2 linked regions of the Homo sapiens genome follow. The protein of the gene in region 1 purifies or fractionates together with the protein of each later gene. This does not show direct contact. Each region holds a gene or a part of one and is shown on either strand. Other genes may lie near its edges.

Region 1 (5,779 bases):
CTATAACACCAATTATGTTTCTGAGGATGCATTTGACATGCCAACTCTCATTCACAAAAATACATTGTTAGATTTTTGTTGAACTGCCCCACACAGCACACTAATATGGGGTGTAACACACATACTTGTAACTCCAAGCTGCTTTCAGGAGCTACTCAACTCAATGAGATTGCCTTTGCAGTTAGGGAAGCAACTACTGAACTTATGTATGAAAGAAAAGAACTGTATTCCCTGCATAACAAGAGATTATTTTGGAGACAGTTGATAAAAACCATACATCCTTTTTACTGTTAAGTCATAAAGAGGTGTCAAAATTAAAAGCAAAAATTACAGGGTAAGACTTAGGAAAACTACTAGGGGTGTCATGGGAAGTGAAAATGGGACTAGGCGCAGGGCAATATGAATTAATGAATGTGGGAAGGACAAGGATGGGGAGAACAGTAAGCATGTGCTGAAGATACTAAGGGAGAGGATCTGGTGAAAAATTTGTTGTTAGACAAGCTCCTAGGTAAAGAAACAATGGGATAAGATTTCTCAACCCCACTATGTGCTTAAGAGTCATCCTGGCCATTGGTGCTGTCTCTGTTATCCTCTCCTTCCTCAGCATCTTTTTCATTATTCTTGATCAAATGAAGCTGGTTGTCCCCCTGATCTTCATTATCATCATCATCCAGTGGGTCCCCCTCCTCAGCAGAGTCTTCTGCACCCCCCTCAGACTCCATCTTTACATGAGTCTCATCTTTCTTCATGGAGCTACTGCTCTGCTCCTCTTCTGACTTAGCATTTTTCACCTCTACCTCTTGTTTGCTCTGTTCCTTTTCAATTTTTTCCAGGTTTTCCAGGAGAGAATCCACTTTCTGTTTTATCTGGGTCAACTCCTGCTTAATGGCCTGAAGGTCATCTCCTTTCAGCTTTCCAGACTTGGAAGATCCCCGCTTTCCACTCTTAGAATTGAAGCCACTTTTGCCCCTTCGTGAGGTGTTTCCTGATATGCGCTGGCGTTTCGAGGGCACTACAGCCAGAGCAATGGGAGGAGGAGGAGGTACACGTGCTGGGAAACTGTACATCCCATCATAATAATCCCGTTGAAAGCCATAGTCCAAGTCAAAAGAGGAGCCGTACATCTCCGCTGCGGATCGTTTCACACCTGCGTTTCCTCGGTTCACTTTTGGCTCTGCAGCCAGGTTAATAACTGCAACCTGGCTAGCAATCATTCTGCCATCCTCTCCTGCTACAGCAGCCCGGGCATTTTTCTCCTTATCATATTGAACGAAGGCAAAGCCCTTATGAACAGAGCAGCCCGCAATTTTGCCATACTTGGAAAAGATCGCCTCCACATCAGATTTCTTGACAACAAGAGTGTTGAGATTCCCAATGAACACACGGGAGTTCACGGAGTGAGGATCCATCTTGTTGGTAACGTTGCTGGCCATTGTGTTGGATGATAAGGTTTCTCAAAAAGCCAAAAACAGGAGGCGGGAGGGAGAAGAGATTCGATTCTAAGTCTCCTACTGCCGGGTTCTACGGGGAGAAACTGACTGCGGCTCGAGGCCAGAAATGCAGCCAAAACAGCTCAGTCTTCGTCTCTTCACAAAATGGCTGCCAACAAGAATTCTGAAATGATGTAAAGAAAAGCACAACAACATTTTTGAAATCACGACAAAATTGCATTTAGAAAAAAAAATCAAAGCTTCAAAGTGTTCATATGAAAAAAAGAAAAAAAGACATGATATAGTTCTATGCCATCGTAGGCTGCACTGTCACCGTTCTAGACCGGCTGACTGTAGGTCACATGGGAGTGTCCTTACAGAAATTAGTGACTTACCAGATCTGGTTGTAGTTTAGAAGGTGCTCAGACCTCAGGAAGAGCCAAGCAGGAACTCCAGGCTTGAAGACTTTGAGTTTGTCCTGTGGGTCTTTAGAAGCTTTTATTGACCTTTCTAATCACAACTCCCACCCACGCCCCTCCACGTATCCGCTGCTAGCTTCCAATCAAAAAGCGATATCTGATTGCATTTCTGAAGCTCCACTCAGTTAATCCTGATTGGGTTTTTGACTGTCCGAAGACTAATGGATTGAACGAGATATCCATTCATATCACATATGCATAATCATTTTATGAATTAAGAAATTGACAGAGTTAGGGATAGAGTGGAAATCAAGAATTCATTCACTCAAGGCCAGGTGAGGTGGCTCACACTTGTAATCCCAGCACTTTGGGAGGCCAAGGTAGGTGGATCACCTGAGGTCAGGAGTTCAAGACCAGCCTGGCCCACATGGTGAAACCCTGTCTCTACAAAAATAGAAAAGTTAGCCAGGCACGATGGTGGCTGCCTGTAGTCCAGTTACTCATGCGGCTGAGGTGGGAGAATCCCTTGAACCCTGGAGGCTGAGTTTGCAGTGAGCCAAGATTACACCATTGCCCTCCTGACTGGGCGACAGAGGGAGATTTTGTCAAAAAAAATGCATTCATTCATGAAATCCACAAACACTGATGGAATTTTACTGCTATTTCGCCTTCAAGTCCTGATGTGAGGCAGGGAAGGGGTTGATCTGTTCCAGACATTAGACAGAAAAATAAAACCTGAAAGTAGTGTTGTGGGGAGATCTTTGGCCACATCAAAATTATAAAATTTATAAAAATATTTCTAGTTAAAATAGCTGTATAAACACAGAGGAGTCGTCCCTACAAAATAAGAATAAAGATCTCCATGTATGGAATGGTCTTGTGGGTTTTATATCACCTAAGGTAGCAGTTTCTTCACTCGTGCTGGTGGAAGAGAGGTGCCACTGAGGGCTTGAGTGGTCTCAGGGCTTAGGTTAAGTCTTCTCTGGAAGAAATTGAAATGATACCTGTAAACTTTATAAGTTTAATCAGTGAAGAAGGGAGGGGGAGAAACAAAAATAAACCAAGCTTGCAGCGCATTCAGCATTCACCATGAGGTCAGCTTGCTCTCTGACCTTCTTCCTCATGGTTGCTGGCAGCTTACTGTCCCCAAATCAAGTAGACCTTAGCTTACAGTTCCCCTTAACTACCCTGCAGACAACAATTTAAGCCTTGTAAAACATTAACTTTCTCATTTGAGATATTCTTTCAGGTTCTGCATGTCAGTGAAACTACTGATGCCAGCTGATCTGAAGGGCTCTGCAAGGCACCAACTCACCAAAGAATGCAGTTTTGACATCCTGATGACTTCATCCCTCTTACCTCTACACCAACTTTCCAGCCCCTTGCTATCCAGGATCCACTGGAAACCCTCAGTACTACTTGGGGAGATGAATTTGAGGATATCCTCCTAGCTTCTCATTTAGCCACCCTGTGATCATTAAACTGTCTGCTGCAAACACTGCTGTCTCAGAATATTGGTCAGCTACTGTGCAGCAGGCATAGGAACCTGATGGTCCTGTAATAAAATCATGTCAAAATTACAAAGAGAAGTGAGGGTAGAGGATGGGCATGGTTGAGCTGGGTGTTTTAATGGGATCCTGGGAGTTAACCAAGACTTGGTAAACATGTTGGGGGTTACTGAGGGGGTGGAGGTGGAATCTATCCAACATTTCACTGATGCCCCTTTACTTTTGATTCTTAGGACCAAGGTTGAGTCTTTCAAAACAATTTGTATAATCCTCCTTATTTTTCCTTTCAAAACCTTTGTCTTCCTTTTTCTCCCAAAATAATCTCACATCTATTCCCATTGCTTTCCTCATTTCAGGATAAACACATCTTTTTTTTTTTTTTTTCTGACAGTCTCCTTCTCTGTTAAGTTTACCATATATTTTGTTGCCACTGAAGATGAGTAACTTGGTTTTATGGACAGGAAGGGTGAAAAGGATCCCATTCCTCAACAGCTGGAGGTGATATGAAGGTCATTGTTATTCTTTGTCATATCTGCACCTGCATATTGCCAGTGAAAACCTGAAGGTCTCATTGGGGCAAGCTTAAAAATTAGCCACCTATAGAAGGTCTTAGCATTGGCTTACATCCTGTCCCTGAGTAAAGAATCTGATCATGAGTTCATGAGTACCTCAAACTCTACAAGTACTGATGAAGTCTTCACCCGCTGACAGTGAGAAGGACACTGATTTTATTCTGATCATGAAGTCATGCTGGTTGTCTTGCAAGGAAAATGTTTTAGCCTGTTATGTTGTCATCTAAAGCTAACGATTGTAACCTCTGTCTTGTACCTTCCAATGGGAAAAACAAAAACAAAAACTCAACTCTATTTGAGCCTTGCCAGGTCAATAAAACAAAAGAAAATTAAAAAAAATTGATAGGAGGAGTCCCATTCCCTTCTTTTAACCTCTCTTACAAAAGCATTCCAACTTGTAACAGACTTTGGAAAACACTCACTTTGTCAGTGTGTGTCTTCCAGGTCGATTCTCACATTTAGCTTCCAATAAAGCTTTATTTAATTATTTCTACCTCAATGGCCTTAACTTCTATTGATACCAGGTTGCATGGTAATGGTTTGAATTGGGGTGGGAAGAAAAAGTATTTCTATGAGTTTTATAAAGTAATCCTTGCATGCCATCTGCATTGAAGAATGAATAGGTTCCTCTCCAAATATGTCCTGAGTATTGATGCATCCAATAAATAAAACTATTATGTATTTCACATAGTAGAGCTATAGACACATTCTATTTGCCTCTAGAGTTTCCAATGAACCAATGTCTAGTTTCAGTAAGTTCTCTGATTAAATGGCAGAGGGTAACATGGTCATGTTCTGATTCTATGTCTATGTCGATACCTATAGCACTCCAGTCTTCATAAGGTGTGTCAAACCAAAGAGTTTGATTCTAGTGGGAATCTGCGACACTACCTAGATTAGATCCAGTTTCACTAATGTTTTTTATGCATAGAGATAAAATGCCAGTAATGTAATCAATAATAGTCATAGGCCACCCATTTGCACCTATAGCTTCTTCTCAGTGCCAAGTCATGTAATTATAAATGTTAACCAACCTTCCAAAGGAAGGATAACAAACCTTATCATGAAGTTGGCATCCTCAATTGCTACCCAACTGTTTATGAGAGCATGTTCTACTATTTAGTTGTGATCCTTCCCTTTCATGTAAATGACTCCATAGCCAGCAATTGCTTTGGTTAGTGAGAGTGGCTACATTTTGAACAGAAGACCTTAGAAAGTGTTTGGTTTGAGTGGAGAAAGTACCTAACAACATAAAATATAGGTTTGAGCATTTTGTTTTAATACAAAACAAAACCAAGTCTCAGTCAATGGAAGAAGATCAAATGGAGTCTTGTTCCATTGTCTTGGAAAACTGTCTACCATGTGATGATGTCTGCTTCTAAGGAAGGCTTTTCCTTGGTTATCCTTAGTTTTAAGTCATCTGGTACAGTCCCATCCAGTGCTGCTCATGGGCAGATTTCCCTTGGTATCATTTCTAAAGGATGCAATCTCCAAATTCTAGGGCATGAAGGTCTAAGCATCACTGAAAGCCTCCCTCACCTACTGGAAAGACTTTGAAATACTGCATCAAGGTCTTGCAGTATTGAATCATGTTGTTACTGAACGATGGGCTCACTCTCCTAAGTGCATAGAAGTCCTTTGAGAAAAGAAAAAAAGATTAGGCTGGGCAAGGTGGCTCAAGCCTATAATTCCAGCACTTCAGGAGGCTGAGGCAGGGAGATCACAAGGTCAGGGGTTCAAGACCAACCTGGTCAACATGGTGAAACCCCGTTTCTGCTAAAAATACAAAAATCAGCTGGGTGTGGTGGTGTGTGCCTGTAATCCTGGCTACTCAGGAGTCTGAGGCAGGA
Region 2 (7,039 bases), on another chromosome or scaffold:
GAATGAGAAGCTTAAGTGAAAAATCAGGCAAAAGGTCGAACTTTCTTCTTAAAGCACCTTCCTATTTCTTCAGGTATACTGTAGGGTGCGCCCACTGGGCTTTCCTGATCAAGAGTGTTGCATAGAAGTGATCAATAATACAACTGTTCAGCTTCATACTCCTGAGGGCTACAGACTCAACCGAAATGGAGACTATAAGGAGGTAATTCTGATTTGGACCAAGTTGTTTTTACTCAATATGTTGTTTCCTGAATGACTTCTAGATTTTTAGATGTAACAAAGTTCATTTGTGAGCCCACATTTTCAAAAGACTTATTTACTTCATTATAACCACTGTATCTAAAGTGTTTTTGACTTCTGGGATGCACAGACATACCTTTGGTATGCTGGGGTTAGAGGATTGCTTTTAGCAGATAATTTCTTACACTGAGTATTATTGTTTCTTAGAGCATGTGTTAGGGATGATTTAATGTGGAATGATACATGATTGTGCTAGGCAGTTTTATATATACAACTTGATGTGTGGAAATGAAAATAACATTTAATAATAGACATTGTTTACTTGCATCAACCTCCTATGCAGTGTTTTTATTTTTAGTAAAGTTTTGAGTCAGCTCAAAAATATTGTTTAGCAAATGTGCTAAGCTAATAGTTGGAGGGTGGAAGGAGATTAAAAAAAAGAGCATGACATACTCCTTGCCTTTAGAAAGTTTATAACTTAAGATATATGGTAAACAAATAATTCTCATATAAATAAGACAGAAAGTTAGATGTGCTAAAGATGAGGGGACCGTGGGAATGCAGTAGGATTAATTCAGGCTACCATTTCTACTTCTAGCTGTCACTCACTCTTTTGTGCCTACTATTCCTGTGAAATTGCTCTTCAGAAGACTACCAGTGGCCTCTTTGCTGCTAAATTTGATGTATACCTCTTCATCCTCATTTTAACCTGTTTGTCAGCAGCACTCTCCTGTCTCCCCCTCCAGCTCTCCTTGTATCTCCAGCTGAAACCTTTTCTCTGGCTCTCAACATTCAACCACTTACTTGATATCTCTGCTTGGATGTCACATGTGCATCTCAAATTTTACATGCCCAAAAAGGAGTTCTTGATTTTTCTTATTCCCTCTCTAAATACTTCCTCCCTTGTTTTCTTCTCAAGGAATGGCACTATCGTGTGTCCAGTTGCTCAAGCCAGAAACCTGGTACCTACCTTTTACTTGCCTCTCCTTATAACTAGTTCATTAGTAGCTCCTATCAGTTATATTCCAACATGTGTCTTGAAACTGTCCTTTCATTTCCATCTCCACTGCCACCACCCTAGTCTGAGCCCCATTATTAATCACTGAGACCAGAGCTACTGTAATGAAGGAGTAGCTTTTTTATTTTTAATGCGTCACAGCTGAGACTTTTGTACAACTTGTGCTAGATGGAACTGCCCGTGTGAGTTAGACAATAGGGAACTAGTTCATAATCTCTTCATAGAGATGAGCCTATTGAATACATGCTGAAATACTGATAATTGAGCAGTGCCAGATGGAGGCTCATGCCTGCAGTCTCAGCACTTTGGGAGGCCAAGGTGGGTGGATCACCTGAGGTCAGGAGTTCAAGACCAGCCTGACCAATATGATGAAACCCTGTCTCTACTAAAAATACAAAAATTAGCCGGGCATGATGACGTGTGCCTGTAATCCCAGCTACTCAGTAGCCTGAGACAGGAGAATCACTTGAACCCAGGAGGCGGAGGTTGCAGTGAGCCGAGATCGCGCCATTGCACTCCAGCTTGGGCAACAAGAGTGAAACTCCATCTCAAAAAACAAACAAACAAAGAAACAAACAAACAAAAAACAACTTTCTAAACATTTAAGTAGTCTGGTAACCAATCTCAGACTGGCATTGGTTTGCTGAGTGTGCTTTGGGTATCATTGACAAGACTTCCAAAGCCCAACTGCCTCCACTTGGAATCTTCTCTAATCCATTTCTACAGAGCAGACAGTGATCTTTTAAAACATAAAATCTCATTTTCCTGTTCAAAACCTTTCAAAGAATAAAATCTTTGAACAGACAAAATCCTGCTTCATCCGTCTCCCATCTGTCTCTCCACCTTCATTCATCTTTTAGTATTCATCCAATCCTTTGAGTTTCTTGGATAAGGCAGAATCCTGGCTGTTAGCTGTTGCCTTAACCTGGACTTCTCTTTTTCTGGGTCTTAGCATGGGTCATCGTTGGGTTTCAGCTTAAATATCACCTCCTCGGGTTGTATAGACTACCCAATCAGAAACAGCACCCCACAACCCCTCTCCCCTGGTCTGTACTCTGTATGCCTCCTTTACATTACTTAACCACAATCTATTTGTTTACTTGTTTATTGTCTTTCCTCTACCATAATGTAAACTTCCAGGGAATATGTACCTTATATGTTCTGTTCATCAAATAGTAAATATGGCTTCAGCAAGAATGAATGGTCTGGGAGGGTTTTTTGGAGGAGCAGGTCTTTAAGGATATAATATAGTTAAACACTGATTTACTGAGTTTTACTTCTTTAAGTAAATTTCAAGTATGTATAAATATAGGTATCGAGTAGGTATCGAGTAGGTATAAAAAGGTTTGATGGGGATTAAAAATAGTCACTGCTTTCTGACAGAAGGCAACATTGTATAATGAAAAGAGCATTGCTGCCGGGCATGATGGTTTACATGTGTAATCCCAGCACTTTGGGAGGCCGAGGCAGAGGGATTACTTGAGATCAGGAGTTCGAGACTAGCTTGGCCAACATGGCGAAACCCCATCACTACTAAAAATACAAAAATTACCCAGCGTGGAGGCATGCGCCTGTAATCACAGCTACTCGGGAGGCTGAGGCAGGAGTATTGCTTGAACCCAGGAGGCAGAGGTTGCAGTGAGCCGAGATCCTACCACTGCACTCCAGCCTGGGTGACAGAGTGAGACTCTGTTTCAAAAAAAAAAAGAAGAAAACAAAAACATTGCACTGATGATGGCTTTGATACTAATTAACTCCATGGGCTCAGAGAAGTTTCACCTTCGGGCCTCAGTTTTCTTTACCTTGAAAGGAGGGAGTCATTCATGAGGACTGTGAGGTCATCTATCTTCTCAGTATTAGCCTATGTGTATCCTTTCAGTTCCAAGATTCTTTGTTCTTTTTGAACTCTAAAGCTGATTTTTACAGGATATTTTATTAATTGTATTTAGAGAGCCTTGATAATTGAAGTATTCTTGCTTTCTTAAAGGTCACAATTTATTTAAAATGTATTTCATGTAAGAACTCAGAGATGAGATAATATTTACAGTTTACTTCTGGTTTTAAACTATAGTACATCAAAACGTGGTATTATGCTGCTATGCCATTTTATTTTATATGTCTTTTTTCTTTTTCTTTTTTGAGACAGGGTCTCACTTGTTGCCCAGGCTGGTGTGCAATGGTGTGACCACAGCTCACTGTTTTTTGGTGAGGTTTTTTTGTTGTTTTTACTTTTAAAATTTTTTATTAGATGAGCTTGCCCAGGCTGGTCTCTTAACTCATGGCCTCAAGTGATCCTCCTGCCTCAGCCTTCCAAAGTGGGATTATAAGTGTGAGCCACTATGCCCATGCTTTGCTATTTTAAATGACACCTTTATAAAGAAAAACTAGGAAACAGTAAAGTTGTGTATGACATAATGCTTGTAGATTTCCACAAATCTGTGACTATGAATCGTTACAATACCTTTTGATCTCTGTCACTTAATTAAAACAAAATCAGCCTTAGATTAGAAGCATTAGTAGACTTAAGACTTTTCTACATTTTTGGCCAGGTGTGGTGGCTCACGCCTGTAATCCCAGCACTTTGGAAGGCTGAGGTGGGTGGATCACCTAAGATCAGGAGTTTGACACCAGCCTAACATGGTGAAACCCGTCTCTACTAAAAATATAAAAATTAGCCAGGTGTGGTGGCACGTGCCTGTAATTCCAGCTACTTGGGAGGCTGAGGCAGGGGAATCGCTTGAACCCAGGAGGCAGAGGTTGCAGTGAGCCGAGATTGTGTCATTGCACTCCAGCCTGGGCAACAAGAGCAAAACTCTGTCTCAAAAAAAAAGAGTTTTCTACATTTTCTTTAGTAGTTGTGACTGAAAACGTTTACCAGTTTATAATTGGTATGATATAGGTATGTCATGACTTTTTAGTAACTAAATAACTAAGGGTTCCAACTGTAAAAAGACCATTTATATTTTTTCTTTGCATGCTTAGATCTTAAATGTCATAAACACCTTAAGTTTAAGGAGATGTATTTTTAGCCTAGATAATAGTGGAATTCTATTTAGTGCATTTTTTTCTCTCTCCACAGACTCAGTATTCATTTAAACAAGTATTTGGCACTCACACCACCCAGAAGGAACTCTTTGATGTTGTGGCTAATCCCTTGGTCAATGACCTCATTCATGGCAAAAATGGTATGATATGACTCTTGGAGTTTTGTTAGATTTTCCTTTTTCTCCTCTTCTGATAAAACTTTTTTGATATTTATATATTTGATTTATGTTTGGTGTTGAATCCATATTTAATTTGTTAGGGTGGTGCTAAACTTGCCTTTTTTGAGCTGGCTAATTGTTAGTGTTTTCTAATGCAGTGAAGAAATACTCTAAGTGGAGAACTTCTAAGATATAACTCATTGTGACTTGCTACACTGTAGGTCTTCTTTTTACATATGGTGTGACGGGAAGTGGAAAAACTCACACAATGACTGGTTCTCCAGGGGAAGGAGGGCTGCTTCCTCGTTGTTTGGACATGATCTTTAACAGTATAGGGTCATTTCAAGCTAAACGATATGTAAGTATGATTCTTTTGTGTTGTGACTATCTTACTGGACTAAGACACCTATGGATACAGTAGTAGTAAAGAAGAACCAAAGCACTGGATTCATTTTGAAACCTTAACTGTTCCTTAGTTTTTAAACATATTTCTTACTATTTAAGTTAAATTCTAAAAAACGTGGTGTGATTTTTTTTTTTTTGCCCCCACTTCAGGTTTTCAAATCTAATGATAGGAATAGTATGGATATACAGTGTGAGGTTGATGCCTTATTAGAACGTCAGAAAAGAGAAGCTATGCCCAATCCAAAGACTTCTTCTAGCAAGTAAGTAATTATATTTGTCTGCAGCACTGGCCTAGGGGCACAGGATTCTTTCCTGTGGTTTGCCCAGACATGAGGAATGGTGAACATTAAATAGAGAAGTTGACTTTTGTGAGATTAAAGTTAAGGAATGTTCTTAAGTTCTTTGCTCAGATGTTTTCTCTTTGGCTTTGAGCACATTTTGTTTCAATCACTGTTTTAAGAGGGTGCCACTCTGGATGGGGAGAGGGTATAAAAGCCATTGTTGTGTGTTCGGGAGGACGTGGGAATACTGTTGGCAAACCATGAGTATGAATAAAGCTGCTTTGTGCATTTCTGCTTGTAATTGCAGATATTTATTTTATCTGTTAGTTTCCCCTTGGGATCAGTTACTTTTTTTTTTTTTTGAGACAGAGTCTCACTTTGCTGCCCAGGGTGGAGTGCAGTGGCATGATCTCGGCTCACTGCAACCTCTGCCTTCCAGGTTCAAACGATCCTCCTGCCTCAGCCCCCCTAGTAGCTGGGATTAGAGGCACACGCCACCATGCCCGGCTAATTTGTATTTTTAGTAGAGACGGGGTTTCACCATGTTGGCCAGGCTGGTCTTGAGTTCCTGATCTCAGGTGATCCGCCTGCCTCGGCCTCCCAAAGTGCTGGGATTATAGCTGTGAGCCACCATGCCCGGCTGGGATCATTTACTTTTAAAATGGACTTATAACGTATACAATTGAACTTTTCTTTTTTTAGACGACAAGTAGATCCAGAGTTTGCAGATATGATAACTGTACAAGAATTCTGCAAAGCAGAAGAGGTTGATGAAGATAGTGTCTATGGTGTATTTGTCTCTTATATTGAAATATATAATAATTACATATATGATCTATTGGAAGAGGTGCCGTTTGATCCCATAAAACCCAAGTAAGTAATAAAGAGAGCCCCTTCTTAGCTGTTAATGTTGGGGAAGTTACTTTGCCTCAAGGAGTTTTAGTTTCTTCAGTTATGAAAGAGAATAATGCTTGCATTTGTTTTCAGAATGAAATGATATAATTTGTATATCACGTGGTTTTGTGTTTGAGTATGTTTATTATTAACTAGATATGTACCTGTATTAGGGAACTAGTGGGTTAAAGCATCTAAGGAGAAGAGGGACCCAAATATTCATCTTGGAGATTACTTTTGAAAACTCTGGGCCCTGGGCTATGTTTTGAGAAGGATCTTAATTATATAATTAAGAACGTTTCAAGAACCTGAGACAGTAAAAGGAGTTTTGTAGGCTCTTTAACCACCCGTGTCTTGGTGATTTCTACAGACTGGAGCCTAAAGCTGTTATCTATACAAGTAATACTTACATATCTTCTATCATTCATTAATATGGTATGATATCTGCACTGTAATTCCATCAGAGTTGAAATACTACTTCCTAGATTTCCTTGGGTCTTGCCTTTCTGAGACGTAAGACTGGTTACCACTTGGCATCACAAATGATAAATCTGCATTTGTGCCAGAGTTGACCCTGGGATCTTATGTTTAATATTAGTATCTTGTTCCTGAGTTGATGGTTTTGTTTTTCAGCTAAAGGCTTGTCTTTAATGCTGTCTTTATTAGGGCCTCTCAGGACATAAATAATACGAAGACCTGTGGCTTATATTTAACTTTGTATATCTAAGGGAACATTATTGGAGAAACAGCTGGATTTAGAAAATCATTAGACTGAGAATACATACCAGTATATCCACTTTTAATTACATGAAGAATTTATGGACTCTGGTTGAGGCCATACTTGATACAAGCATTTCTGTGGTTCTTAGTGAGTCACATTTTGATACAGTTATCTTCACCAGAGTCCTTGAATTTTCATCACGTTTATTGGGAAAACAATTACAATATGGCTAAGTAAGCTAAATGTAAAAATATTAACACTCTTAATACTAAGAGTT

Evidence for each region. The genes of interacting proteins can lie anywhere in the genome.
Region 2: the proteins of HNRNPCL2 (region 1) and KIF23 purify together in Homo sapiens (affinity purification with mass spectrometry; 2 studies listed by BioGRID and IntAct, with this or other methods). This does not show direct contact.

What each region holds. Positions count from the first base shown.
Region 1 is NC_000001.11:13,114,968-13,120,746, forward strand, and holds HNRNPCL2 (heterogeneous nuclear ribonucleoprotein C-like 2), read right to left. Parts: upstream 1,888-5,779; 5' UTR 1,826-1,887; intron 1,615-1,825; 5' UTR 1,434-1,614; coding exon 552-1,433; 3' UTR 521-551; downstream 1-520.
Region 2 is NC_000015.10:69,417,310-69,424,348, forward strand, and holds part of KIF23 (kinesin-like protein KIF23), read left to right. Parts: intron 1-73; coding exon 74-202; intron 203-4,337; coding exon 4,338-4,443; intron 4,444-4,682; coding exon 4,683-4,819; intron 4,820-5,016; coding exon 5,017-5,126; intron 5,127-5,849; coding exon 5,850-6,020; intron 6,021-7,039.